2 separate regions of the Homo sapiens genome follow, and region 1 is linked to region 2. Evidence: fine-mapped expression QTL. A gene starts in region 2. The other region holds a variant in brackets. All regions are shown on one strand. Distances are between the middles of the regions.

Region 1 (16,275 bases), 34 kb after region 2:
CCAAAGTGCTGGGATTACAGGCGTAAGCCACCACGCCCTGCCTAAAAAAAATATTTAAAAATTGAAAAAATAAAAAGGTGGATTCCAGTTCTTGTCCTCTAGAATACGGGCAGCCCTATTGACTTGCTTCTCATGAACAGATGATAAGTGATTTCCGAGGCTAGATTAGAAAAGGTGACACAGCCACTCCCTGGGTCTCTCTGTCTTGGGATTTGTGCCTTGGGAGCTCTGAGTCACCATGGTGGAGAGACCCTATGGAGAGAGAAGGGAGCCAAGGAGCCTTTGGTACCAGATATGTAATTTAGGAAAGCTTTAAAATGATCCCACACCCAGCCACTATCTGACTGCAAACTTATTAGAGACCTAGAGCTGCCACTCCCTAGCTGGGCTGCTCCTGAATTCCTGACTCCTAGGCACTGCAAGAGATAACAAATGATGATGATAATGATGATGATGATGATTTTTGAGATAGAGTCTCAGCCTGTCACCCAGGCTGGAGTGCAGTGGCATGATCTTGGCTCACGGCAATCTCTGCCTCTCTGGTTTAAGCGATTCTCCCACCTCAGCCTCCCAAGTAGCTGGGATTCCAGGGGTGCGCCACCAAGCCTGGCTAATTTTTGTATTTTTAGTAGAGACGGGGTTTCATCATGTTGGCCAGGCTGGTCTCCAACTCCTGACCTCAAGTGATCTGCCTGCCTCAGCCTCCCAAAGTGCTGGGATTACAAGCATGAGCCACCACGCCTGGCCCATTGTTGTTTTATACCAGTGTATTTGTCTGTTTTCACACTGCTATAAATAACTGCCTAAGACTGGGTAATTTATAAAGAAAAGAGGTTTAATTGATTCACAGTTCTGCATGGCTAAGGAGGCCTCAGGAAACAGACAATAATGCCGGAAGGGGAAGTAGGGATGTCTTGTATGGCAGGAAATGAGAGGTCATGTGAAGGAGGAACTGTCAAACACTTATTAAACCATTAGATCTGGCCGGGTGCGGTGGCTCAAGCCTGTAATCCCAGCTCTTTGGGAGGCCAAGGTGGACGGATCACGAGGTCAGGAGATCGAGACCATCCTGGTTAACACGGTGAAACCCCGTCTCTACTAAAAGTACAAAAAAAATTAGCCGGGTGTGGTGGCGGACGCTTGTAGTCCCAGTTACTCGGGAGGCTGAGGCAGGAGAATGGCACGAACTCGGGAGGCGCAGGTTGCAGTGAGCCGAGATCGCACCACTGCACTCCAGCCTGGGTGACAGAGCGAGACTCCGTCTCAAAAAAAAACAAAACAAAAAACATTAGATCTCACTGTCATGAGAACAGCATGGGGAAACCATCCCCATGATCCAATTACCTCCTTCCCTTAACAGGTGGGGATTACAATTTGAGATGAGATTTCGGTGGGAACACAGAGCCAAACCACATCAACCAGTAAATCTTGGGCTGATTTGTTACACAGCGATAGATAACTTACTACGTCAGGATCATGGTAAGTGAGATCATGTATATGAACATAATGTGTATGATCATGAATATCTCGCACACAGACAATGGACTGAAAAAGAGAAATCATATTATTCTTACCATTTTCTGCTTGCTTGAGTGTTGTAGACTGAATGTTTGTGTCCTCTCTGAATTCATATCTTGAAGCCAAAACCATCAGTGTGATATTATTTGGAGGCAGGGAACTTTGGAGGTAATTAGATTTAGATCAGGTCAGGAGGCTGGGACCCCCATGATAGGATTAGTACCCTTATAGGAAGAGGAAGAGAGGCTGGGAGTGGTGGCTCACCCTGTAATCCCAACATTTGGGAGGCTGAGGCAGGTGGATCACTTGAGCCCAGGAGTTTGAGACCAGCCTGGCCAGCCTGGCCAGCCTGGTGAAAGCCCATCTCTACTAAATACAAAAAAATTAACCAGGCATGGTGGCGGGTGCCTGTAATCCCAGCTACTTGGGAGGCTGAGGCAGGAGAATCGCTTGAACCCTGGAGGCAGAGGTTGCAGTGAGCCGAGATCACGCCACTGCACTTCAGCCTGGGCTATGGAGCAAGACTCCATCTCAAAAAGAAAGAAAGAAAAAAAACAAGAGGAAGAGAAACCAGAGCTCACGTTCTCCACGTGCACACACTGGGGAAAGGCCATGGGAAGGCACAGCAAAAAGGCGTCTGCTTGCAAGTCAGGAAGCAAGGCCTCACCAACAACTGAATCTGCTGGCACCTTCATCTTGGACTCCCCAGCCTCCAGAACTGTGAAAAAATAAATGTCTGTTGTTTAAGCCACCCAATCTTTTTTTTTTTTTTTTTAATTTTTTGTAGAGACAAGGTCCCATCATGTGGTTCTGCCTCTGCTTTCCAACCTGTTGAAATTACAGGTGTGAGCCACTGCACCTGGCTGTTTTTAATTTCTTTCTTTCTTTCTTTTTTTTTTTTAAAGGGATGGGGTCTCACCCTCACCCAGGCTGTAGTGTGATCCCAGGTCACCGCAGCCTCGAATTTCTGGGCTCAAGCCATCCTCTTGTTCAGCCTCCCAAGTAGCTGGGACTACAGGCCTGCACCACTTTGCATAGCTAATTTCTAAGTTATTTTCAAAGAAAAAGGGTCTCATTTTGTTGCCAGGGTGGAGTGCAGTGGTGTGATCTTGGCTCACTCCAACCTCCGCTTCCTGGGTTCAAGCAATTCTTGTACCCTCAGCCTTCCAAGTAGTGGGGGTTACAGGCACACACCACCACACCTAACTACGTTTTTGAATTTTTAGTAGAGACAGGATTTCGCCATGTTGGCCAGGCTGATCTCGAACTTCTGACCTCAGGTGATTCACCTGCCTCAGTCTCCCAAAGTGCTGGGATTACAGGCATGAGCCACTGTGCCTGGCCTCCCAATATCATATATATCATATATATAAAATATGTATCTCATATATAATATCATATATATATATATATATATATATATATATATATATATATATGTACTTTTTTTTTTTTTTGAGGAGTCTGGCTCTGTCACCCAGGCTGGAGTGCAGTGGCACGATCTCAGCTCATTGCAACCTTACCTCCTGTGTTCAAGCAATTCTCCTGCCTCAGCCTTCTGAATAGCTGGGATTACAGGCGCCAGCTACCATGCCTGGCTAATTTTTGTATTTTAGTAGAGACAGGGGTTCACCACGTTGGCCAGGCTGGTGTTGAACTCCTGTCCTCGGGTGATCTGCCTGCCTCGGCCTCCCAAAGTGCTGGGATTATGGACGTGAGCCCCTGAGCCCGGCCTGTCACACACTTTTAAACCATCAGATCTCATGATAACTCATTCACTATCATGAGAACAGCGTGGGGGAAACCGCGCCCATGATCCAATTACCTCCCACCAGGTCCCTCCCCCAGGCATGTGGAGATTACAATTTGACATGAGATTTGGGTGGAGACACAGAGCCAAACCACATCACAGTGTGTGGCGTGGGGGTTGGGGATTCCTGCCCTAGAGCCTCCAGAAGGAGCACATCTTTGATTTTAACCCAGTGCGACCCGTGCTAGACTTCTACCCCTCAGAACTGCAAGAGAGCAAATTTGTATTGTTTAAGCCACTTAGCCTGTAGTCATTCATTACAGCAGCAAGAAGACCTGAACACACTGGGGCTGAGGACAGAGATGCACAGGGAGGGAAAGGAATGAGAGACAGAAGTGGTGAGAATGAATGAGATCGGGGAGAACAGGTGAAGATGGCAAGAGGGCCTGGGCACAGGGCAGCCACGGATCATGCTCAGGGGAGGGAAGAGGAGGTGCCTGGGGAGGCTGGCAAGAAACGGTCAGAGAGATGACTTGAGCTTGAAGGACAAAAGCCCAAGGCTGACATCTGTTGCTTGTGTGGGCAGTCAGGAGCTCCCACTTCTCAGGGATGTTCCCAGCATTGTCTCTGTGCTGATGACTTCCAGTGTGGCTGTCATGCCCAGCCCTGTGGCTGGAGCCCGGGGCCCCATTCAGCCTTGGTTGCAATTGTGTGGAAATCAATAACTACAAATTCCAAAGGTATAAATGGGAAACCTGAATGGAGAGATAAGGGCATAGGTTTCAGAGGGAGTATGGCCTTGCCAACACCTTGAATTTTTTTTGTTTGTTTGTTTTTGAGACAGGGTTTCGCTCTGCCATCCAGCCTGGAGTGCAGTGGTGCAATCATAGCTCACTGCAGCCTCAAACTCCTGGTTTTAAATAATCCTTCTGCTTTAGCCTCCCAAGTAGCTAGGACTGCAGGTGTGTGCCACCACGCTCAGCTAATTAAAAAAAATTTTTTTTTGTAGAGGCCAGACACCGTGGCTTATGCCTGTAATCCCAGGAGGCCAAGGCGGGCAGCTCACTGAGGTCAGAAGTTCAAGACCAGCCTGGCCAACATGATGAAACCTTGTCTGTATTAAAAATACAAAAATTAGATGGGAGTGGTGGCGGGCGCCTGTAATCCCAGCTACTTGGGAGACTGAGGCTGGAGAATCACTTGAACCCAGGAGGTGGAGGTTGAAGTGAGCAGAGATCGTGCCATTGCACTCTAGCCTGGACAACAAGAGTGAAACTCTGTCAAAAAAAAAAAAATTTTTTTTTTTTTTGGTAGAGAGGGGGTCTTGCTATGTTGCTCAGGCTGGTCTAGAACTCCTGCACTCAGGCTATCCTCTACCATCGATCTCCTGAAGTGCTGGGTTTACAGGCCTGAGCCACTGCACCTGGCCATGACTTTATGTTCATTTAATTAATCATATCTGCAACAACCCTGTTTCCAAATGAGGTCACATTCTGAGGGACTGGGAAAGAGGGCTTCAGCATATCTTTTTGGGAAACACCACTCAACCCATAACGCTTATAAAGAGCATTGTGTTTGTGAGGATTGTGTTTATAATGGCCCACCCAGGTACGCTAGGATAATCACCCCATATCAACAGCCTTAGCTTAATTACACCTGCACAGTCCATTTTGCCAAGTAGCAAAGCTGTTCACAAGTCTAGGGATTAGAACGTGGATATCCTTGGAGGGGGCATTTTTCTGTCTACCACGCCAGTTCTCTCTCTGAGCTCCAGGCTTGGCTAGACAAGGGATTCCTGAATGTCTCTCTCCAGATGTCTGCTGGGTACTTTCCACTCACCGTGTCCAAGTTGATCTCAGCATCTTCCCCCACCAGTCCTGTTCCTCTCACATCCCCATCCCAGGGATGACTCCTCTGTCTCTCCCAGCAGACTCATCTCCTCCTGTCCTCCTCTCATCCTTGACTCCTGAGCCAGAGAGCTGAGATTCTTTAAGCAACTCAAAGATTCATTTCTTCAGCCAACATTTCTTCCTTCCTTCCTTGCTTCCTTCCTTCTTTCCTTCCTTCCTTCTTTCCTCCTTTCTTTCTTTCTCCTTCTTTCCTTCCTTCTTTCCTTCTTTCTTTCCTTCTCTCTTTCTTTCTTTCTCTTTCTTCCTTCCTTCCTTCCTCTCTCTCTCTCTCTCTCTCTCTTTCTTTCTTTCTTTCTTTCTTTCTTTCTTTCTTTCTTTCTTTCTTTCTTTCTTTCTTTCTTTCTGATGGAGTCTTGCTCTGTCTCGCAGGCTGGAGTGCAGTGGCAGGATCTCGGCTCACTGCCACCTCCACCTTCAGCGTTCAAGTAATTCTCCTGCCTCAGCCTTCTGATTAGTTGAGATTACAGATGCCCGCCACCATGCTCAGCTGATTTTTGTATTTTTAGTAGAGACGGGGTTTTGCCATGTTGGCCAGGCTGGTCTTGAGCTCCCAACCTCAGGTGATCCGCCCACCTTGGCCTTCTAAAGTGGTAGGATGACAGGCATAAGCCACCACGCCTGGCCTTCAGACAACATTTCTTGAGCGCCTGCTAGGTGCCAAGTCATCTTCTAGGTACTGGGAACACAGCAATGAACAAATCAGACAGCAGTCCCTGTTTTTTTGTGGAGTTTTCCTTCTCATGGGGGGGACTCAGGCAGCAATAATGTAAAGACATTAAATATGTGGTTTATTATGGGTTTAAAAAGAAGCTCAGGGCCGGACACGGTGGCTCACACCTTTAATCCCAGCACTTTGGGAGGCCGAGGTGGACAGATCATGAGGTCAGGAGTTCGAGACCAGCCTGGCCAATATGGTGAAACCCTGCCTCTACTAAAAATACAAAAATTAGCCAGGTGTGGTGGCGCTTACCCGTAGTCCCAGGTACTCGGGAGTCTGAGGCAGAAGAATCACTTGAACCTGGGAGGTGGAGGTTACAGTGAGCCGAGATCGTGCCACTGCATTCCAGCCTGGGCGACAGAGGGAGACTCTGTCTCAAAAGAAAGAAAAAAAAAAAAGCTCAGTCCTCTTCCCCGACATTTTGCTGATCCTGCCTCCATGTCTCCCTCTCCAGGAGTTTGTCATCATTGCGTCCTCACCTCTAACCTGCTGGCTGGTTTTGGTACCATAGTCCCTAGCCTGGCTCCTCCACTCCTGAGCCCTGTGCTGCCCTGGAGGAAGGTGGCCACACTGAGCAACTAAAAAGATAGAAAGCCAAGTTAAATTTAAAGTTCAGATAAACAATGAGGTGTTTTTAAATAAATATATCCAAAATGTTGCATGGGATATACTCATACTAAAAAAGTATTTGTTGTTTATCTGAAATTCAAATTTAACTGGGTGACATGTTTTTATAAAAAATTCTTTTTGAAAAAAAATTTTTTTTTTCTGAGATGGAGTCTCGCTCCGTTGCCCAGGCTGGAGTGCAGTGGCGCCATCTCAGCTCACTGCAAGCTCCGCCCCCCGGGTTCATGCCATTCTCCTCCTCAGCCTCCCAAGTAGCTGGGACCACAGGCACCCGCCACCAAGCCCGGCTAATTTTTTGTATTTTTAGTAGAGATGGGGTTTCACCGTGTTAGCCAGGATGGTCTCGATCTCCTGACCTCATGATCCACCCGCCTTGGCCTCCCAAAGTGCTAGGATTACAGGCGTGCGCCACCATGCCCAGCCCAAAATGTTTTTACGGGTACAGAGTAAGTGTATACATTTATGGGATACGTGAGATATTTTGATACAGGCATGCAATGTGTAATTATCACATTAGGGTAAATGGGGTATCCCCTCAAGCATGTACAATTTCTTTGTATTACATACACCCCAAATATACTCTTTTAGTTATTTAAAATGTACAGTAAAGTATGGGTTTGTTTTTTTCTTTTTTTTTTTTAGACAGAGTCTTGCTCTGTCACCCAGGCTGGAGTGCAGTGGTGCAATCTCGGCTCACTGCAACCTCTGCCTCCTGGGTTCAAGCGATCCTCCTGCTTCAGCCTCCTGAGTAGGTGGGATTACAGGTGTGTGCCACCACACCTGGCTAGTTTTTGTATTTTCAGTAGAGAGAGGGTTTCACCATGTTGGCCAGGATGGTCTCGAACTCCTGACCTCAGGTGATCCACCGCCTCGGCCTCCCAAAGTGCTGTGATTACAGGTGTGAGCCACTGCGCCCGGCCCTAAAATGTATTGTTGACTGTAGTCACCCTGTTGTGCTATCAAATACTAGAACTTATTCATTCTATTTAACTGCATTGTTATAACTACGAACCATCCCCACTTCCCCCTGCTCCACTACCCTTCCCAGTCCCTGGTAACCATTCTTCTACTCTCCGTCTCCATGAACTCAATTGTTTTAATGTTTAGCTCCCACAAATGAGTGAGAAGATGGGACATTTATTTTTCCATGCCTGGCTGATTTTACTCAACATAATGATCTCTGGTTCCCTCCATGTTGTTGCAAATGACAGGATCTCAATCTTTGTTATGGTTGAAAAGTATCCCATTGTGGCCAGGCATGGTGGTTCACACCTGTAATCCCAGCACTTTGGGAGGCTGAGGTGGGAGGATCACCTGAGGTCAGGAGTTTGAGACCAGCCTGCCCCAACATGGTGAAACCCCATCTCTGCCAAAGATACAAGAAAAAATCAGCTGGGCGTGGTGGTGTGCGCCTGTAATCTCAGCTACTCCAGAGGCTGAGGCAGGAGAATCACTTGAACCCAGGAGGCGGAGGTTGCAGTGAGCCGAGGTCGTGCCATTGCACTCCAGCCTGGGCAACAGGGTGAGACTCTGTCTCAAAAACAATAACAACAATAACAACAACGACAACAAAACAGTACCCATTGTGCATAGGTACCACATTTTCTTTATCCATATGTCTGTTGGTGGACACTCAGCTTGCTTCCAAATCTTGGCTGTGGTGAACTGTGCTGCAACAAACATGGGGGTGCAGGTATCTCTTGGATACACTGACTTCCTTCCTTTTGGGTATATACACAGCATGGGATTGCTAGATCATATGGTAGTTCTCTTTGTAGTTTTTTGAAGAACCTCCATACTGTTCTCCAGAGTGTCTGTACTAATTTACATTCCCACCAACAGTGTATGAGGGTTCCCGTTTCTCCACATCCTCGCCAGCATTTGTTATTACATATTTTGGATAAAAGCCATTGTGACTGGGGTGAGGTGATATCTCGTTGTAGTTTTGATTCACATTTTTCTGATGGTCAATGATGTTGATGTTGAGTACCTTTTCATATACCTGTTTGCCATTTGTGTGTCTTCTGAAAAATGTCTATTCTGATCTTTTGCCCTTAGGCTTTTCCAAATATAAGATCATATTATCTGCGAATAAGGATAATTTGACTTCTTCCTTTCCAACCTGGATGCCCTTTATTTCTTTCTCTTTTCTGATTGCTGTAGCTAGGACTTCCACTACTACGTTGAAGAACAGTGGGGGAAGTGGGCATCCTTGTCTTGCTCCAGATCTTAGAGGAAAGGCTTTCAGTTTTTCTCCATTCAGTATGATTCTAGCTGTATGTCTGTCATACATGACTTTTATTATGTTGAGGTATGTTCCTTCTATACCCAATTTTTTGAGGGTTTTTATCATGAAGGGATGTTGAATTCTATTAAAGGCTTTGTCAGCATCAATTGAAATGATCATATGGTTTTTTTCCCTCATTGTATTGATATGATGTATCACATTGACTGATTTGCATATGTTGAACCATCCTTGCATCCCTGGGATAAATCTCACTTGGTCATGATAAATGTGAGTGACCTTGCTTTATCTGGCAACACAACTATGAAGTCAGAAACTGTTCAAACTAAGGCCAGGAGTGGTGGCTCACGCCTGTAATCCCAGCACACTGGGAGGCCGAGGTGGGCGGATCACTTGAGGCCAGGAGTTGGAGACCAGCCTGGCCAACATGGCGAAACCCTGTCTCTACTAAAAATACAAAACTAGCTGGGTGTGGTGGTGCAGGCCTGTGATCCCAGCTACTCGGGAGGCTGAGGCAGGAGAATCACTTGAACCTGGGAGGTGGAGGTTGCAGTGAGCCAAGATCAAGATCACACCACTGCACTCCAGCCTGGGTGACAGAGCGAGACTTGGTCTTTAAAAAAAAAAAAAAACTGTTAAAACTAGAACTTTCTACCTCGTCACTCTGTTTGCCATTGTTTCCCACCAGGTGGAGCCATGGTCATATTTATTATCTTAACATCTTAACATGTTTACTTATGGTAGGATGACCTGCAGTGGTCCAGCCTCGTGGTATTCATGCCCTTCTGGGACCTATACCCCTTTGTGTGTAGATTGGGCATAGTGACAAGCTTCTAACAAACAGCATATG[G/A]CAGAAGTGATGTGATGTCACTCCCGGTACAGGTTACTGGAAGACTGGTTTATGTCCTGCTGGTCCTCCCCACCTTGCCTTGCTTGCTCTATGGAAGGGGCTTCCATTATGGGAACTGCCTGGGGAGAGGCTCATGGGGCAAGGAACTGATGCCTCCAGCCAACAGCCAGCAAGGACCTGAGGGCTGCCCACTGCCATGAGTGAGTCTGGAGGCAGATTTTCCACCCTGAGATGCCTGCAGCTCCAGCCAGCCCCTTGACTCTAGCCTTGAGGAACCTACAGCCAAAGCCACCCAGTTACCCTCACCCAGATTCCTGACTGCTGGAAATTGTGACATCGTAAATGTTTCTTGTTTTAAGCCAATACATGTTGGTGTAATTTTTGTTTTGCCTTTGTTTTTGTCTTTTTGAGTCAGTGTCTTACTCTGTTGCCTGGGCTGGCGTGCAGTGGTACGATCATGGCTCACTGCAGCCTCGGCATCCTGGGCTCAAGTGATCCTCCTGCCTCGGCCTCCCAAAGTGCCAAGATTACAGGCATGTGCCGCAATGCCTGGCCTGGTGTAATTTCTTATGTGGCAGTAGATAACTAATACACTTGTTATATGGCAGTAGATAACTAATACATAACTAATAAATATTCTTCTCCCCACTCCCTCTCTTTCCCCCATCACTGGACAGTGATGTCTGTGAGGGTAGGGACCATTATCAGTATTGTAACCTGTGTGTCATCAGACAGCACAGCACAGAGTATGTTTGTGCATGGCGTTCAAAAGTTCGTGGAGTAGGCCAGGCAGAATGGCTCATGCCTATAATCCCAGCACTTTGGGAGGTCAAGGCAGGCAGATCACCTGAGCCCAGGAGTTTGAGACCAGCCTGGACAACGTGGTGAAACTCCACCTCTACAAAAAATGCAAAAATTAGCGGGCCTGATGTCATGTGCCTATAGTCCCAGCTACTTAGGAAGCAGAGGCAGGAGGATCACTTGAGCCTGGGAGGCAGAGGTTGCAGTGAGCCAAGATTGCACCACTGCACTCCAGCCTGGGTGACACAGTGAGACCCAATCTCAAAAAAAAAAAAAAAAAGATTTGTGGAATAAATGCAGGAATGCATGAACAAGAGTTGTTAGTTCTCATATAAGCTTTTAAAAGACAGATGCTCAAGAGCAAGTAGGAAAGTGAAATACCAGCAAAATAAAATATCTTCTCTGGGTTTGCTCTGGGAGAGCAAAGTACCAGCCAGGTGTCAGCCAGAGAAAGAGAATGATGAGGAGTAAGATGTGGATATGCATATACGTATCCAGGTATCAGTCCTGGTTCTCCAGAAGAACAGAACCAGTAGGAGATATAGATATGATATATACACGTATGCATATAAATACACATATATGCTGCTGGAGTTTGGATATTTGACTCTCCAAACCTCATGTTGCATTTTGATCCCCAATGTCAGGGGTGGGACCTAATGGGAGGTGTCTGGGTCATGGAGGTGAATTTCTCACAATTGGTTTGGTGTCAGCCTCTTGGTAGTGAGTGAGTTATCTCTCTATTAGCACCTGCAAGAGTTCCCCTGGGAGCTGGTTATTAAAAAGAGACTGGCATCTTCCCATTCTCTTGCTCATTCTCTTGCCATGTGATTTGGACATGCCAGCTACCCTTCCACTTCTGCCATGAGTGGAAGAAGCCTGTGGCCCTCACACTGCAGACTGGTGAGTCAAATAAACCTCTTTTCTTTATGAATTACCCAGTACCCAGGCTCAGATTGGTTCTTTTTTTTTTTTTTTGAGATGGAGTCTCGCCGTGTCGCCAGGCTGGAGTGCAGTGGCGCAATCTCGGCTCACTGCAACCTCCGCCTCCCAGGTTCAAGCCATTCTCCTGCCTCAGCCTCCTGAGTAGCTGGGACTACAGGCACACGCCACCATGCCCAGCTAATTTGTTTTTTGTATTTTTAGTAGACACAGGGTTTCACCATGTTCACCAGGATGGTCTCGATCTCTTGACCTTGTGATCCACCCACCTCAGCCTCCCAAAGTGCTGGGATTACAGGCGTGAGCCACCGCGCCCAGCCCAGGTATTTTTTTGATAGCAAAGCAAAACAGACTAAGATATATGCACATACACATATATATACATACATGTATATATGTATGCATATATGTGTACATGTATTTATGTATTTATGTATTTACTTATTGCAAATGAATGGGCTTCTGCCATTTTAGGGGCTGGCTAGGTAAGTCCAAGATCCACAGGGCAGGCTGGAAACTCTCAGGCAGGAGTTGATGTCATTCAAAAGCAAAATTCCTTCTTCCTCAGGGAAACCTCAGTTCTGCTCCCCCAAAGGCCTTTCAACTGATTGGATCAGGCTCACCCAGATTATCTAGGATAATTTACTTAAAGTCAACTGATAGTAGATGTCAGTCACATGTACAAAATACTTTCATAGCAACACCTAGGTTAGTGTTTGATCAAATAACTGGATACTAGTGTTTGATCAAATTACTGATAAAGACATACCCAAGACTGGGTAATTTATAAAGGAAAAGATGTTTAATGGACTTACAGTTCCACATGGCTGGGGAGGCCTCACAATCATGGCAGAAGGGAAAAGTCACGTCTTACCTGGTGGCAGGCAAGAGAGAATGAGAATCAAGTGAAAGGGGAAACCCTTATAAAATCATCAGCTCTCATGAGACGTATTCACTACTACAGAACAGTACGGGGGAACCATCCTCATGATTCAATTATCTCCCACCAGGTCCCTCCACAACACATGGGAATTATGGGAGCTACAATTCGGAGACAAGATTTGGGTGGGGACACAGCCAAACCATATCATCTAGGTAAATGGATATAGGAAGCTGAATATCACAATTCATAAGGGATGGGTGATAGGGATTTGACCATATGCATTGCATAAGCTGGTTGAGCCATCTATGTAAGGGTGATCTCTCTGCATCTGCTGGTACAGCCTGAAGTCAGCAGGGCAGGTATTGGGAAGGGAAGATGGGATACAAAGTGGGGAAGCCAGGGAAGACGAACTGAGAGGATCAGTGGGAAGCCATGTAGACAGACGGGACCCTCACAGTCTCCAGGACTCCAATTTTCATGAGCGGATGTCTTCCAGGAGAAGTCACTGCTCTTTGATTTGGAGTTAAATGTGTACCTGCAGGAGGATCCTGTGGGAGCTGGGAGAGGTAGGGGCCTGGCTGCTGCCTCACATCCCCAGGGAGAGCCTCAAGGTGCAAACAACGTGCATGACAGCCACAGTGCCTGGGCCTGCACCCACCTGCCCAACACAAAAGCATGTGGCTTCTGCTTCCCTTCTGCCTTCCACATTCATGCACGTTGTCTCCTGGGGCCCATGCTAACTTTCAGCTGCATAGGGAAAGGCTTGTGGGAAACCTCCTTCAGCTTAATGAAATTGACACATTACAAATTCATGACCAGTGGGAACTGGGACCTTGTTCACCTCTTTGGCTGTGGCCAGAGGCCCTCCTAGAAGCAGAAAGAATTGAGAAGTGGTGCTTCCTGCAAGCAGAACCTATTGGGAAGCCATCTCACAAGGGAAGCTGGGCAATATAGTTTGCAGGCTTCTAGCCTGGTGGTACAAAGGAGGGTGCTGATGACTAAGAATGAAGCAGAAAGCCAGCAGATAAACACTGACACCAAACCAGAGGGGTGGAAATGCTGGCTGACAAAGTGAATGACACTCTGTTGACCTCCAACACCAGCACTTCTAGATCTTAGGGCCCTGTTCCAATTCTCCTTACATCTATTCCTTTTGTCTTATTGGTTGGGGCCCTATTTTTCCCTTGGTGATTCTCCTGTCTTATGAACCTTGATGTCACATAGACTTGTAGTTGCTCTGGGGACAAATCCATTTTCGTGAGAACACAGGTTAGTCATGCCTCCAAAATCAATCCCAAATCTGAATCTACCTCCCTCTCCCCCTACCCTCACCCAAGCCACGATGCTCTCTCTCCTGCTTGAGCAAACAGCCTTCTAATCTGGCCACTCATTTCCACCCCTGCTTTCCTCAAATTTTCTCTCTACATTCAGCCAAAGGGACTTTTATAAGGCACAATCCAGCTGGGCATGATGGCTCATGCCTGTAATCCCAGCACTTTGGGAGGCAGAGGCAGGTGGATCGCTTCAGTTCACGAGTTTGAGACCAGCCTGGGCAACACAGTGAGACCCTGTCTCTACAAAAAATACAAAAAAATTAGCTGGGTGTGGTGGTGCACACCTGTAATTCCAGCTACTTGGGAGGCTTAGGCAGGAGAATTGCTTGAACCCGGGAAGCAGAGGTTGCAGTGAGCCGAGATTGCACCACTAAACTCCAGCCTGGGTGACAGAGTGAGACTCTACAAAAAAAAAAAAAAAAAAAGCACAATCCAGGTCTTGTCACCCCTGTTGAAGACTCTCCAAGGCTCTGTCTTATGCATGAAATAAAATAGGAGCCTCTATATCTTGATCTCTTCCTGCCTCAAGTTGAGAACTCACTGAGTCTTGCTCACTGGGGGCTGTCCTCTGGCCTCTCTCAGATCCTCAAGTCCTCCAATTTCTTCACTAAAGAGCTCTGTACTGGCCGGGTGTGGTGGCTCACACCTGTAATCCCAGCACTTTGGGAGGCCGAGACAGGTGGATCACCTGAGGTCAGGAGTTGGAGACCAGCCTGGCCAACATGGTGAAACCCCGTCTCTACAAAAAATACGAAAATTAGTCATGGTGGCGTGCACCCGTAATCCCAGCTACTTGGGAGGCTAAGGCTGGAGAATTGCTTGAACCTGGGAGGCAGAGGTTGCAGTGAGCTGAGATTGCACCACTGTACTCCAGCCTGGGAGACAGAGCAAGACTCCGTCTCAAAAAACAAAAAACAAACAAACAAAAATCTCTGCACTTTCACTTTCTCTTCTCTTCTCCATGCCTGGGCCTCTCCTCTTGTCACTCCCCTTGCCCACCATGGCTACCTCCTTTGTATTCCTTTGTATTCCTTCCTGCCAGGTGTCACCAACTTCCCCAGCCCTGCTACCTAAAGCAGAGTCCTCCTGCAGTCACTTTCCACCACATCACCTAGTTGGACTTTCCTGGTAGCATGTGTTTTTGCTCCATGAAATGATTGCATTTCTAGTTGTTTATTTAGTTTCCACTTATCCTAGTAGACCGGAAGCCCCAGGAGAGCCCAGACTTGGTCTCGTGACTGCTTTCTGTCCCATCAGTGACAGTGTCAGCGTCCTCAGATCTGGGATTATTCATGTGAGTCCAACACCCCCCAGAGCCCTCAAGAGGAAAGGGAGAGGCGGTGGCCGGATGGACACCCCTGCCTGCTCAGCCCTTCTCCCTGAGGTCTCTTGGATCTGAACAGCAGCAAGAGATCATGGCAAATAAATCACTCAATGCTTGTGTGTTTTGTGCATGTTTTTAGTGCCTCCAAATGCTGAGCATTTAGGGTTTGTTTCCGAGGTTTTCTGAAATACGCCAGGGCCTTGGTGTTGGAAGCAAATTAGGATACCTGTTGTCTGCCTGTGCTCTGAGTCAACCTGAGGAGCTCTCAGCTGGGCCACGTGGAGTGTACACGGGGTGGGCCCCACAACCCCAGCCCCAGCCTTCCTTCCATTTGTGTTTTTTTTTTTTTGAGACAGAGTCTCGCTCTGTCGCCCAGGCTGCAGTGGCACAATCTCGGCTCACTGCAAGCTCCGCCTCCCGGGTTCACACCATTCTCCTGTCTCAGGCCTCCCGAGTAGCTGGGATTACAGGCGCCCGCCACCATGCTCAGCTAATTTTTGTATTTTTAGTAGAGACGGGGTTTTGAAATGTTGGCCAGGCTGGTCTCAAACTCCTGACCTCAGGTGATCCACCTGCTTCGGCTCCCAAAGTGCTGGGATTACAGATATGAGCCACTGCGCCAGACGAAAATCATTTTTAAGTCTTATTTTCCAAGTGTTGAATAAGTTTCCTGCACAGAGCTCCTGAAATCATGTTATCTCTAAAGGTAGCTATTGATAAAATAAGGGGTTGGTCTGATTCTGGTTTGTACTATTCTTAATTAAAATATCGGATAACTCACAAATGTTACGGGAAATAGAAAACAAATTGGAGCTTAGTTTGTGGCATATATTCCCAATCCCAATGATCAATAATGTTTGTATATCATTTATATTAGTACACAGACTCAGTGGTGGCTATTTCATGTGGTCTCTGAATTGTACCTTTATATAGCGTAGGCTCTGTCCTATTTGGCTTGGTAAACTTACATAGATAAAACAAGAGGTGTTAATTGCACACAGAGGCCTCCTTGTTGTATGGTTAGTAAATCTAGAATTATGTGGTGGTGAGCACTGCTAAAACCAGAGAATTAGCTTCTGTCTGGATATTATGTAAGGAATCTAGAGTTGTATATTTGGACTGGACTCTATTAGTCTGGAACGAATAGAACTTTCTTTTACTGCCTACTTTTTTTTTTGAGACGGAGTCTCCCTCTGTCACCTGGAGGTGGAGTGTAGTGGCGCAATCTTGGTTCACTGCAACATCCGCCTCCTGGGTTCAAGCGAGTCTCACACCTTGGGCTCTCGAGGAGCTGGGATCACAGGCATGTGTCACCACCCCCAGGTAATTTTTGTATTTTTTGGTAGAGACGGGGTTTCACCATGCGGCCAGGC
Region 2 (12,799 bases):
CCATCTTCCCTCTCCCCACCCTTTAGCTAGCCCAGCATGGTTCTGAACAAAATGAAAGTCTTAAGGGCCATAGAGGGGAAAGAAAAAAAAAGAGAACCAGCACATTACAAAGCGACCATCCCCACATCCATTCCTAGGACGGGCCCTCAGGGCGGTGGGTGCATCGTGAGGAGGGAGCGGCATGGGATGTTAGCACCAGGTATTTACAGAACAGCTCGAGAGCGCTTCAGGAACGCGGGCAAGTCCAATTTGCAGAGTGGCCAAATGAGCAGTCCCCACCCAGCCAAACCTCAGAAAGCCAATCAGATGGTTTCAGAACAGCAGCCAGTGGGATGTGAGTGTTGCCCACTGTCAGTCCCCTTCTGTGAGTTGGCCCCCTCGACCCCCTCCTGGGCCACATCCAGTCAACGCCACAATTCCTCAACGCCCCCTCAGTCCTTCTGGAATGCCTCTCTTGGCACCCCTGCCCCAACAGGCTGCTGGGATCTGCACGTGGAATCACAGGGCTGGTTGCATGCAACGGCAAAGGGCATGCTCTTCTGCCTGGGGGAGGGCCTCTTGTCCCTCCCAGCAGGTCCCGGGACAGGGCTGGCAGCCACCCCAGCACCCAAAATAAGATGACAAACAAGAGGAAACAAACCAAAATGGAGGAGAGCCATCCGGGCTGGAGGAGGGCAGAGGCTCCCCAAGGGGATCTGGGGAGGGCTTCAACTTATGAATGCATCAGGCCTTGGAAGACATGGATGGAAGAGGCGAGGGCAAAAGGAAGAGATGAGGGGCATGGAGAGAGACTCAGGGAAGAAGGAGAAAGAGCAATCATGCAGCTTGGGACAAATCTTTTGTTGCTTTATCAGATTCTCAGTCAATCAATTGGTGTTTGCTAGAACCGGGGTACGCAGGGGAGTGTTGAAGAGAGAGTGCGCGCGCGAGAAGAGAGAGATCAAGAGAACGGGCATCGCCAGCTGCCCGGGGGGCCTTCACTTTGCAGTCATCATCTGTACAAACTCTGTGGAGTGAAGCAGAGAGAGAGGAGGTCAGGCGGGCAGGCTAAGTGGCGAGCGGCCCTCCCCAACAAGAGGGATCTGGGGGCTTGTTCCTGAAGCTGCGATTCTCTTCTTGTTCCAGAGATCAAGCCTGGCCTTGACTCACCTTCATAATTGACCTGGCCATCTCCATCGATGTCAGCCTCCCTGATCATCTCATCCACCTCCTCATCGGTCAGCTTCTCCCCCAGGTTCGTCATTACGTGACGCAGCTCTGCGGCGCTGATGTAGCCATTCCCATCCTGGGGGTTGGGGATAAAGCCTTTCACTGGGCACTTCTCCCGGTGGGGAGAGAGGCAGTGAGAGGGGTGGCTGTCATCACCATCCCTCAGCAGTGAGCACAGTGAGGGAGGCTGCCTGAGGTGGCAGAGCAGGTTGGCAATGAGGCTGGCACCGGGACCCGGACCTCCTGGAAGTGGTAGCTCCGTGGCTCCAGTTCCGCCTGTCTGCCTGAAGGCTGGCGTCAGTCTCAGAGCCGCCCCTGGAGAGGGCTGCTTACCTTGTCAAAGACACGGAACGCCTCTCGGATCTCCTCCTCACTGTCTGTGTCCTTCATCTTTCTGGCCATCATGGTCAGGAACTCCGGGAAGTCAATGGTCCCGTTCCCTGGAAGGTGGGGAAAGGATGGAGAATGCTCTTGGCCTGGGCCCTGAGAGACACGGGCTCATCCATCACCCTGAGAGAGGCTCCCTGCAGTCACTCGGGGTGACCAGGAGCAGGGCTGCCCACGCGCTCTGTGGGGCTCACCATCTGCATCCACCTCATTGATCATATCCTGCAGCTCTGCTTCAGTGGGGTTCTGTCCCAGGGATCTCATCACTGTCCCCAACTCCTTGGTGGTGATAGTGCCATCTCCATCCTTGTCAAAGAGGGAGAAGGCCTCCTTGAACTCTGGGGGAAGAAGGGGGAGGAGTCAGAGGTCACAAGGTCCACAGGAGAATCCTTACCTCTGGATGCTGGATGCCTTCCCTGGAGGAAGGCCAAGGGCATCAGTCCCACCTAAAGAAACTGAGACAGACTTCAAGTCCCACGCAACCAGCTCTCTCTCCTCAGTGCTCAGGGCAAAGCCCTTCCAACCTTCATTCAACAGTTATTGAACATCAACACTGTGCTAGGTGAAGCTATTTTTCTGGCCAGCCAGTGAAGACAGTGGGGAAAATGGTCTGACAGCTGTCCTTAGATGATTCTACATTTCTGTTTGGTCCCTGGCTTTGACTTCTCCCTTGAAATGATGAAATGAACCAAAGTCATGGAGTGAATGAGAGCCGAAAGGATTCTTTGTCTGAGTGTGTTAGCCAGGGTTGGCTGGCTGGGACGAGGAGGGGAGGCTGCAGAATGCCTCTGGCCGGCCTGAAGAGGAAATGCAGGCATCCACTCCCTTCTGACTGGCAGCCCTGTTCCTTGCCGTGGGTGCTACCAGCTTCCAAAGGAGCTGAGCCACTGCGTGTGGTGAGCGTGGGGGTGGTCGGCAGCAGAACATGGCTGACGGACAGTGCGTGGGGTTGATGGGGGGATGGAAAGCGAGGGGACGGCTGCCAAGCCAGGAGGATGAGGAGCTAGCAGTGCTGAGTGGGAAGGCCACAGCTGGGGCCGCATCAGGGGCAGGGAGAAAAGCACATGGCTCTTGCCCTCCCACTGGGCCCATTTTGGCACCTGGTGCTCCTCTACCCCCAAGCCCTCCAAAAACAGATGTCCGGCAGCCTATTCCCAGAGGGTGTGGGCTGGGGTGAGGCGGTGGACAGTTTGCTAATGGGGACAGGGTGAAAAGCAGACCGTTTATGTTGCACAAGGCCAGAGTTGGGAGATGGGTGGCAGGTGCATTGGGAGGGACATGCACAGCTGGGAAGCTGTGGCCCTGAGCCTCTGGGCCCTGGGGACATGGCAAGAGTCTCTTTGGGGAGGCTGGCACCTCCCTGTGCTGAGGCCTTGTTGTTCTTGGGGAGGGCAGGTAGTGAGTGGGTCATGGGGCACCCCGAGCTCATGATCACTAAACCAGGCCATCTTCTGGCTTTCCTCAGGGGTCTCCATAGCCACCCAGGGCCAAAATTTTGAAGCTGCAAAGGTGACTCTGTGATGCGGGTTGAGGGGAGAAAGGAGAGAAGGCAAGTCCGTTCCTGCCTCCCACCGCAGAAGCTGGGCCTTTAGTACTTGTTACACAGCCGGTTGAACCTGACAGCAGAGCTGGGGGCTGGGTAGCTGGTGGGGAGCAGAGGCCCATTCTCTGGATCGCTACTCTGGTCTACTGTGTGCTGGCCCCTGGCTATGGAGATAAACCAAGAGTTGCTCTCTGTCCTCGGGCAGCTCAGTATGGGCGGGTAGGCAGGCACGGATCTGTAATTACACAATAGTTCCTGTAGCTGACCCTTCTGGGGTTTTGGAGGGGTTAGAAAAATGAATTAGATGGGATCCAGGGATTTCTTCTAGCTTGCTGAGAGAGAGATGTTTGTTTAGCCAGCAAAAGTTTGCGGAGGACCTACTACGTTCTAGGCAGGCATTAAGGCTATAGCAGGGACCAACAAAACCAAGTCCCAAACTCAATGGAACTCACATCTAGTAACAGGAGATACAACAGGTGAAGACATAAGAAAATAATTTCAGACAGCGAGAAAGGTTATGAAGAAAATAAAGTGATGTGAAGGAGAGTAAAGGAAGGCTGTGTACTTGAGATGGGGGTCAGGGAAGGCCTCCCCGAGGGGACATCTGAGCTAAGGGACGGGAAGGAGCTGCCCATGCAAAGCACTGGGGAGGCACTTCCGCCAGCAGAACAGGCAGGCGCAGGCACATGCGAAAGGAAGTGCAAAGCGCAGGCAAGCGCAGAGGTGGGAGTGACGAGCCAGCTCCTGGGCGGCTCCTAAAGTGGGACAGGAGCTCTGCAGGCCCCACAGGGAGGCAGGGAGCTCACCTTCTAAGCCAACCTGGCTGAAGCTGGGAGAGAGAGTTGGGCTCGTCCTGCAGCCACTGATATCAAGCCCCTAGATGACCCAGGCCCAGGAGAGGAACACAGCCTTTGGTGTCTGGTAAAGGCCTGTCTCAGGGCCATGGGGCTTCGTGTCATTGGGGCACTGGTGTGCTCTTACACACATTTATCAGCATTCTAGGCACAAGGCATAGTGTTAGGTGACACAAGGGATACACAGGTTCACCCATCAGATGTCACTCCTCAGTGGCTAAGATTTGGCTGGGGATGTGGAGGCTTTCCTGAGCTAAGATGAGGGGGATAGCAGACTCACCTGCAATCTGCTCCTCAGTCAGCTGGTCAGCCTGTAAAAGCATGAAGGGGAAAGTCAGTCACCAGGCCGGACAGCACGGACGCATCTTCCTCACTCAGCCCAGACCCTCGGCCCCAGTGAGGCCAGCTCCACGTGCCATTCCCGCCGGGCCAGGGAGGAGCATGCCAGAGTCAGGGTCTGAGGCAGAGCCAGCGCCTGATGATAAAGTCTGGTGATTCAGAAAGCTGGGTACCAGGGTGGGCTGGACACTCAGGCCTGCTGGACGCACGGCCCGATGAAGCTGCCCAGACCCACGGGCTTCCAATCTCAACTCAGCATGTGGGAGCCACAGGGGCGGGAGAAAAGCCTGCCCCAGCCCCAAACCAGCAGCGCTGGTGAGGCCTGGCACAGGTTTGCATCTCATCAGTGAGAGCCCCAGAGGCCGAGTGAAGGGAACGATTGCCCTGGAGGCCTCATCAAGAAGCTCTAGAAGGCTCCAAACTGAAGCAGGCCAGTCCTTGGGTAGGGCAGAGGGACGATGTCTGGGGCTATCTCTGCTAGTTTCTGTGTCACCTATTTGGAGGCGGTTGGCTCAGGCAGAGTCCACCCAAGTGGCAAAAATTCTCCTAACCGGCGGCCCGAGTTGCTCAAGCACCTAAAGAACTCTGGTCAGGCTGGAGGCAGGCGCTCCACCCCCTGCGCACAGTGAGGGCACAGGGCCATTCTGTTTTGTTTCTTTTGGGCAGAAGGGACAAACGTCAGGGAGAGGGCTGCAGCGGGCAGCAGCAGAGGACTGAAGCTGGCTTGCACTGCAGTTTTTAACCCTTTCCAGCTTGGGCACTCTGGGGACTGGCCAGTGGGTGGCAGGCAGCCCTTGCTGCATGCGGGGTTTGGGGGTGGGGAGGAGATGCGGGGACTGGCTTCTCCTGCACTGGTGTGCTGGGCATCAGCCAGGCATAGTGATCCTATGGGGCAGGAGCGGGGCTGGGGGGTTGGGGAGGCTGAATCCCAACATTTAGCTTTAGCAGCCAAAAGACACATTTTCCCTGGTTTTTGTTGATGCTGTGAAGAAGGCACCACCATCCCGGGACCATGGTGGGTCTGTTCCCCTTCCTTTCACAATCAGGGAAAGGGGCTCCAAGTCTATAGCATGTTCTAGTCTCGAGTCTGAGAGCCTCAGAAATAGAAGCAGACTATTATGTGAATTTGCAGTATTCTACGGAGAGGTTCCAGAAGCTAGGAACAAACCACTGCCTGCCTCCCCTACCCCCATCCCCGTCCCAAATATTAACAATCACTGATCTAAAAAAGTTAGAAAAAAAAAAAAAAAACCTAACGGAAGAAGAACTTGCAAGCCCCAAATAGGCAGAATGGGAGGGGTAATCAAAATGATGATCACAGAGGGGAGAGGGCTTAGGGAGGGGGAAAGAGGAAGGGAGAAAACGGCACACATGCACATTCTGGAAAAGTCCAAAGTGTAAAGGGGAGGTGGGGAGGCCAAATGAAGATTCTTCTGCATTGCCTTCAAAAAAGACAGGGTGGTTGGGCTTCTAAATGCCAACCTGGTAGCCCCAGGCCCATGAGCCTCTTGATCCACCTGCCCCCCACCTCCCACCATGGACAAAAAAGCCTGGAGCCATCCCTTAGGTCCTGACACCTGAGGAAGAGGCTTAGGGAAAGTGAGAAGGGAGGATGGGCTTCTGGTTACCGAGACCAGGCAATGCCCAGGGAGGGTCAGGGAAAGAACAGAGAGGAGGGCAGCAGTGTGGGGAGGTGGCTGCCATCCCATCTGCTTTTCATTCTTTCCCCTGGCCTAGAATGGAAAAAGCGAGCCAGGTCAGGGCCTTCCCAGCCCACTGTTCCGCCCTGCAAGAAGTCCAGCTCCCCGGACCTTTGGGCAGCACTGTAAGGGGCTGGGGGTGGGGGCGAGGAGGCTGTGACAGGCTGCAGACTGCCCCGAGCGGCTCTGAAGGCCACCGTTTGCCAGTCTCCACCAAAAGACTGGAAGATGCAGATGAGGCACTGCCATGTTCAGTTCTGTCACAGGGTTGCTGCAAATAGGCGTGGCTCTGCATGGAGGGCCTGTCAGATGCTCTCCCTCCCATGTTGGAGACCCACTTCCCTGCTTGGTCAAGGAAAGGTACAGATCTCAAGCAAGGTTGCCGCCCAGAAAACCGACCGCCTAAGAAGATATCATTGATCCTTGCTCAAGGTTTCTTCCCTTTCTAGACCTGAAGACTAAACTTTCAACAAAAACTGTTTCCAAAATAACTCAGCTGGTCTCCTGCTTCCTTATCCCTCATCTTAGGCTCCAGCAAGGGGCTGGACAAGAAAAAAAACCATGAGGTGGGGGAGGGAAGAGGGTGTGATTTCTCTGCCTTGCCCCAGCCCCCAGCCAATGCCAGAGAGCAGTGTTAGATGAGATCAGAAACCAAGGCCAGGGCCCCTCACCCGGGCCAAGGAGGAGCCACAGAGCTCAGGCCAAAGTCCAAGGCCAGTTACCAGTGACTTGTCCCACCTCTACCTTGCTGATTACAAACAGAAAGAGAAACTAGTTGTGGCCAAAGCTTGGGTCCTATTCTGGAGGTAGGGGGCCTGCTAGTGCTTCAGGGCCCCTTTTAGCCAGGTTCTGCTGGGGGAAAATGGGGTAGCGGCAAGAGGAGCCATCAGGTCTGTGTCAGCAAGTATGAGATCTGATACACAGCAGCGGCTGCCTGTTCTCCCCAGCCTTGCCAGGGAGGATGGCTGCACACGGTTCCCAGGCTCAGCCTGGTGGGGCTGTGGGTGTTGTGGGTGGCAGGGAGTAGGAAAGAACTAGTCTGCTGGTTTTCTCTCAAAGCCCTGTGAATTAACAGACACGCTCAGCGAGGGCCCTGAATGGAACAAGTGGCCCTCAGGCCGATCAAGGGGTCTCCCCAGAGGCACTCTCTGATCAAGCTCTGCAGCCCCCACCCCGAGGGCACGGGAATAGGCATCTGATTGTCACTGACGCCACACTGTACTGCACTGTCATTTGGCACAAGTGACGAGGTGCAGCATGGTGCGTGGGGCTGGGGATCATGAGAAAACCGGCGCTCCTGCTGGGAAAAGGCAGTGCTCTTGGCCTGAAAAGGGCAGCGACAGAGTGAGGCTTCTAGGCTTGAAAAAGCTGGCTCATTCGAGGCACCCCAAACTTTGATCTCCCATCCCCATTTCATGAGGCTTCAGTGCGCAATAGGGGCCCGAACAGCTCCGCCCACCTGCTCCCACTGCCCCGGTGTCTTCCACCCAGCCGCGTTCTTCCTGAGGAAGGAGGACGGTAGAAAAGCTTCCTCCGGGCCCTGCAGCCCACTCCCCATCCACACTGAGCCGTCTTTGTCCTGGCCTGTCCCTGGAGACTGGCAGGGTGCTACCCACATCCACCCCCAAACCTAGGCCCCCCTGACTGCCATTCATTTTCTCCTTCCACCTCACCTCCCAACCACCCAAGCCCAAGTCCTCCCCCACCCCTCACCTTGGAAATCCATCTTCTCTTGGACCCAAACACAACACTCCCACCCCGTTAAAAAAATTCTGTCTTTCTAGAGCAACAGTCTTAACCCACTAGTAACCTCGGAACCTTTTCTAGCTACTTCCAAATTAACCCCAAGGGTCCCTGTCCCCCGACTACTGGCGAGCCCCACTCTCACCATCCCTTTTCACCACCTCCACGACCCTGATCCTTCTCCGTCCCGGAAGCCTTCAAGAGTATCTTCTAATCTCCGCTGCCACCCACCCCAGGCTCTTCCTCCCATAAGCTTGCACCTCACCCTCCTCCTCCTCTGCAGTGCTGGGCTCTGGAGACCACCCTCCCCCACCCTCCCCCACCCTCGGGAGTCTCATCTGTAGAAGTGACCGCCCATCCTTGACCCTCTCCTCTGCTCCACAGGAGCCCAGGGGTCGCCCCTCCCCGCCCGGGCCCAGCTACCCTCCACCACCCCATCCAGGAGCAGCCCAGCCTCCCTTCGTCCCCCGTTCCCCGCATCCTCTCAGGACCAAACGCCTTCATCAGGGCCCGAATAGCTCCCCTCCCCAGCCCATCTTTCTTATTTCGTCCCCTGGGGTCCAAACACCTCCATCCTGAAACCCAACGCCCCATCCTGGGTCCAAAATCCTTTTGAGGGGTCCCACTGAGGGTCCCGATCCTCCATCCGGGGTTCAAATGTCCCCTTTAGGGGCTCAGATACCCATTTGTGGACTTAAACATCCCATTTGGTGCTAAAGTCGCTTCTGGAAACCTCTGGTGATCCAGACGTCCCGCTCTGGGTTCAACAGCCCCCGACAACGCGGGTAGAAAAGGGTCCCGAGGCTCTCGCCGGGCCCGGACGCCCCCCACTCTGGGCTCTGTCGCCCCCTCAGGGGTCCTGCCCCGTTAAGCCCGCCTCAGAGCCCGCAGCCTCGGCGACCCCCCAGCCTCACTCACCATGGCGAGGCCCGGGGTGTCCGGAGCACGGGGATCAAGGTTCCTCCGGCGGCGGCAGCAGCTGCAGCAGTTCCAGCTCCGCCGCGCGTCCGCGCCTCCACACTCACTGCCCGCAGCGCGCGCCGCCGCCGCCGCCGCCTCCCGCCCCAACGGTCCCTCAACGGCCGCCGCGCGCGCCCCGCCTCGCTCGGCCCCGCCCCACCCGGCCCGCGCGCCGCCGCACTGCGGCTCCCACGGATCCCTCCGCGCCCCGCTCCACACCTACGGGCCCGCGAATCTCTCGTCCCCACCCTGCACAGGAATTGGGTTTGCCGCCGGGCGCGCGCGCGCTCGCTCCCGTCGCCGGACTACTTTCCCTCGCCGCGCGCCCCGCCTCCCGGGCCCACTTCACTTTCTTCGGCGGAGGGGCACAGCTCGGCGGTGCGTGACGCGTCCCTCTGTGAGCCGCGTCACTATTGGGCCTGGCCCATGGCGGAAATGAGAGCTTGGCGCCCATTGGTCCGACCTTCCCTGCAATGCGTCAAACTGGGGCGAGCCACTGCAAGGTGGTGGTGGGTAAGTCTGAACTCTGTGGCCGCGTGGGGCTTTGAGGAGTAACGAGGCGAAGGGGGAAACGGCGTCGCCGTTAGAGAAGCAAATACGTCGTTTCTGTGGCCAGGAGGTGGTAAAAAGGCTGGCGACAAATGCAGAAGGGCTTTCTCGGCTCTCCCCTTTAACCGACGGACGATGGTTCAATCCAAAATGCTAGGGTTTAGAAGCTCCGCCCCTAACTGGGCCTTTGGAGGTGGCGGGGTCTCCAAGGTGCCACCTAACGCTCAGAGGTTCCGCCCTCCGTGGTCTTGTCTCTGCGTCCTAAGACGCACTCAGCCGGTGGGCGGGACCCCTGGGCCCGCTTCATTCTTGATCCGCTCAGGGTCTGTGAAATTAGGACCATCCCAGGACAGCCTGTGGGAACGGGGTATTCATTCAGTCATTCGTGCTATAAGCATCAATTAGGCGCCTGCTGTATGCAGGGACCTGAGCTTGGCTGGGCTGGGGAGACCATACTCCCCAACCAGCCTCTCCAGACAGACGACCTCTTTCCTTATTCCAGTGTTCCAGCCATAGGAGGAAAAAGAACTGAAACTTTGTTTATAGGAGCTCAGAAAATGATCACCCCTGCCCCCTCCCCCGTTTAGGATAGGAGCTGACAGTCTCCTGCGTGTCCCCTCCCCACCATGTTGATGGTTAAGAGATGGGCAAACGAGTCAGGCTGGACCAATCATTATGCTCCACCTGGAACAGAATGGAGACTGAACCAATGAGAGTCCTTCCCTGGGGTTTGGATCTGCAGCCTGGGCACAAGAAGCCTTTTCCTTTTGGGTGGGTCCTTCCCATAGATTCTGACTATGGTCATTTTCCCACTCTGCCCCCTATCTTGAGGAACAAAGTGTCTAGAGAAGAAGAGAAAAATAAAACTGACACAGTGGAGAGGTAAAGAAGATGGCCGGGCGCGGTGGCTCATGCCTTTAATCCTAACACTTGTTACTCAGTCTCAAATCTCATGTTAAAATGTGATCACCAATGTTGGAGGTGGGGCCTGGTGGGAGGTGTTTGGGTCATAGGGGTGGATCCCTCATGAATGACTTGGTGCTGTCCTCACGGTAACAAGTGAGTTCTTATTCTGTTAGTTCACACAAGATCTGTATTTTTTTTGAGACGGAGTCTTGCTCTGTCACATAGGCTAGAGTGCAGTGGCATGATCTTGGCTCACTACAACCTCCGCCTCCCAGGTTTAAGCGATTCTCCTGCCTCAGCCTCCCAAGTAGTTGGGACTACAGGCACCCACCACTACACTTGGCTAATTTTTGTATTTTTAGTAAAGACAGGGTTTCACCATGTTGGCCAGGCTGGTCTCAAACTCTTGAGCTCAAGTGATCCGCCTGCCTTGGCCTCCCAAAGTGCTGTAATCACAAGAATACAACCATCAGGAGTGCCTCAAGGGAGAAATATCCTCTGAGAATAGCCACAGACAAAGTGGGGAGGTGGGACTACCATCCCCAGCCCTGGAAACTCTCTCTACTCTATAACTTGGCCAAAGGAGATGCCAAATCAGAGTGGCTGTTCGTTAGCACCATGCTGTGGGAGGTTTCTTCCATAGCTCCCCTGGGAATGAACCCCTAGCCAGCTTTCCTATGCTACTGGGATATCCCCTTTGGGACCTCCCCCATTCGGGATGGGAGACGCTCTGATCTTTAATAGAGCCAAGGCAAACCTGGTTTTAAGGTGCCACTGAGTGCTAAAAAGGAGGCAGCAACCTAGCAGAAAAAAAGAAACCAACAGGTCAATTACGAAGAATCTGTAAGCAAATGGAGCCAGTAAAAGCCAAAACAAGCCAGACGGAGAAGGCTGGAATAAGTGACTAATCCTTCAGTGCAAAGGCATAGATGTACATTAACAACAAACCAAAGCAAACAGGGAACCATGAGCTCCCCAAATGGACCAAGTAAGGGACCAGTGACTAAACCTAACAAGACAGTAATATGTGAGCTTTCTAAGAATTCAAAATGGCATTTTTAAGGAAACTCAGTGAATTCCAAGACGACATAGAAAAGCAACGCAGAAATTTATCAGTGAAATTTAACAAAGAGATTGAAATAATAATTTAAAAAAAACCCAAACAAATCTTAGAACTGAGAAATACATTTGCTGAACTGAAAAGTTCATTAGAGGTTCTCAACAGCAGAGTGGGTCAAGCAGAGGAAACAATCAGTGAACTTGGAGACGGGCTGTTTGTAAATACATACAGAAGAAAAAAGAAAAAAGAATGAAAGGAATGGAAATCACCTACGAAATATAGAAGACAAAATCTAAGAATTATTGGTGTTCAAGAGGGAGCTGAGGAGGAGCAAGGGGATAGAAAGGATATTCAAAGAAACAATGGAAGACATTCAAAAATTGCAAATATCCAGGTACAGAAAGGCCAGAGAACACCAAATAGATTTGATTACCCCAAGGCATATAATAATCAAACTCTCAAAGGTCAAGAACAAAGAGAGGATCCTAGAAACAGTAAGAGAAAAGAAGGAAATAACACTTAAAAGAGCTCTAATTTACCTGGCCACAGACTTCTCAATCAAAACCATGAAGGCCATACAAGAATACTGTATCAAGCAAAGCTATTATTCAAATATGAAGAAGAGATAAAGTTTTTCCCAAATAAAAGCAGAGAGAATTCACCACTACCAGATCTGTATTATAAGAAATGCTCTCTTGAAGAAAGACAGTTCCAGAGAGTTCCTCAATCCGGAAAAAAAAAAAACCATGCAAAAAGAAAAAAAATTTTTTTTGAGACACGATCTTGCTCTATCACCCAGGATGGAGTGCAGTGGCCCAATCATAGCTTACTGCAGCCTCAAACTGCCAGGCTCCAGTGATCCTCCCACCTCAGCCTCCTGAGTAGCTGGGACTACAGGTGCACACCACCATGCCTGGCTAATTTTTGTATTTTCTTTCTGGTAGAGATGGGGTTTTGCCATGTTGCCCAGGCTGGTCTCGAATTCCTGAGCTCAAGCAGTCTTCCCCCATTGGCCTCCTAAAGTGTTGGGATTACAGGTGTGAGCCATCATTCCTGGCCAAAGAAAATATTTGAAGGTATAAAACCCATTGGTAAAATTAGGTGCACAGAGAAACCCAGGATACTCCAATACTGTAATTGTGGTATGCAATTCATTCTTAACTCTACCATAAAGCCTCAAAGACAAATCTATCAAAAACAATAATATTGAGCTGGGTGTAGTCTCAGCTACTTGGGAGGCTGAGGCAGGAGGATCACTTGAACCTAGGAGTTTGAGGCCAGTCTGAGCAACACAGTAAGACCCCATAATTAAAACAATAATAGCTATAGCAGCTTGTTAAAAGACAAGCAAAATAAAAATATGTAAATTGAGGAAACAAAAAGTCAAAATGTGGGAGGGAAGGAGATAAAGTGTGGAGTTTTTATTCATTGTTTCTATTTTTTTCTTTGTGATCTAAGATGTTATCGCTTTAAAATAACTTGTTATAAGATTTTTTTTAGAAGCCTCAAGGTAACCACAATGCAAAAACCTATAATAGATTCAATAAAA

Evidence for each region. PIP is the estimated chance that this variant, and not a neighbour inherited with it, causes the effect. A credible set is the group of variants that fine-mapping cannot tell apart.
Region 1: its variant is the best candidate, but not a certain one, in a credible set for the expression of CALM3 in whole blood (TOPMed, PIP 0.56).

Annotation. Positions count from the first base shown.
Region 1 is chr19:46,561,803-46,578,077 of GRCh38, reverse strand. It overlaps the pseudogene PPP5D1P. Among named protein-coding and RNA genes, the nearest start is that of CALM3, 31 kb to the left of the region's middle. RefSeq lists a silencer at 100-300. The variant G/A (reference allele first, on the strand shown) is at 9,619.
Region 2 is chr19:46,597,332-46,610,130 of GRCh38, reverse strand. CALM3 (calmodulin 3) reads right to left here and starts at 8,801. Exons shown (of 6, transcript NM_005184.4): 1 at 8,694-8,801; 2 at 4,274-4,304; 3 at 1,791-1,934; 4 at 1,543-1,649; 5 at 1,150-1,285; 6 at 1-1,006. The coding sequence starts at 8,696. The coding sequence ends at 978. It overlaps LOC124904729 (a long non-coding RNA gene), which reads left to right and starts at 971. Exons shown (of 2, transcript XR_007067276.1): 1 at 971-1,033; 2 at 1,126-2,307. It also overlaps the pseudogene PPP5D1P. RefSeq lists enhancers at 7,239-7,308, 9,037-9,536 and a silencer at 8,767-8,906.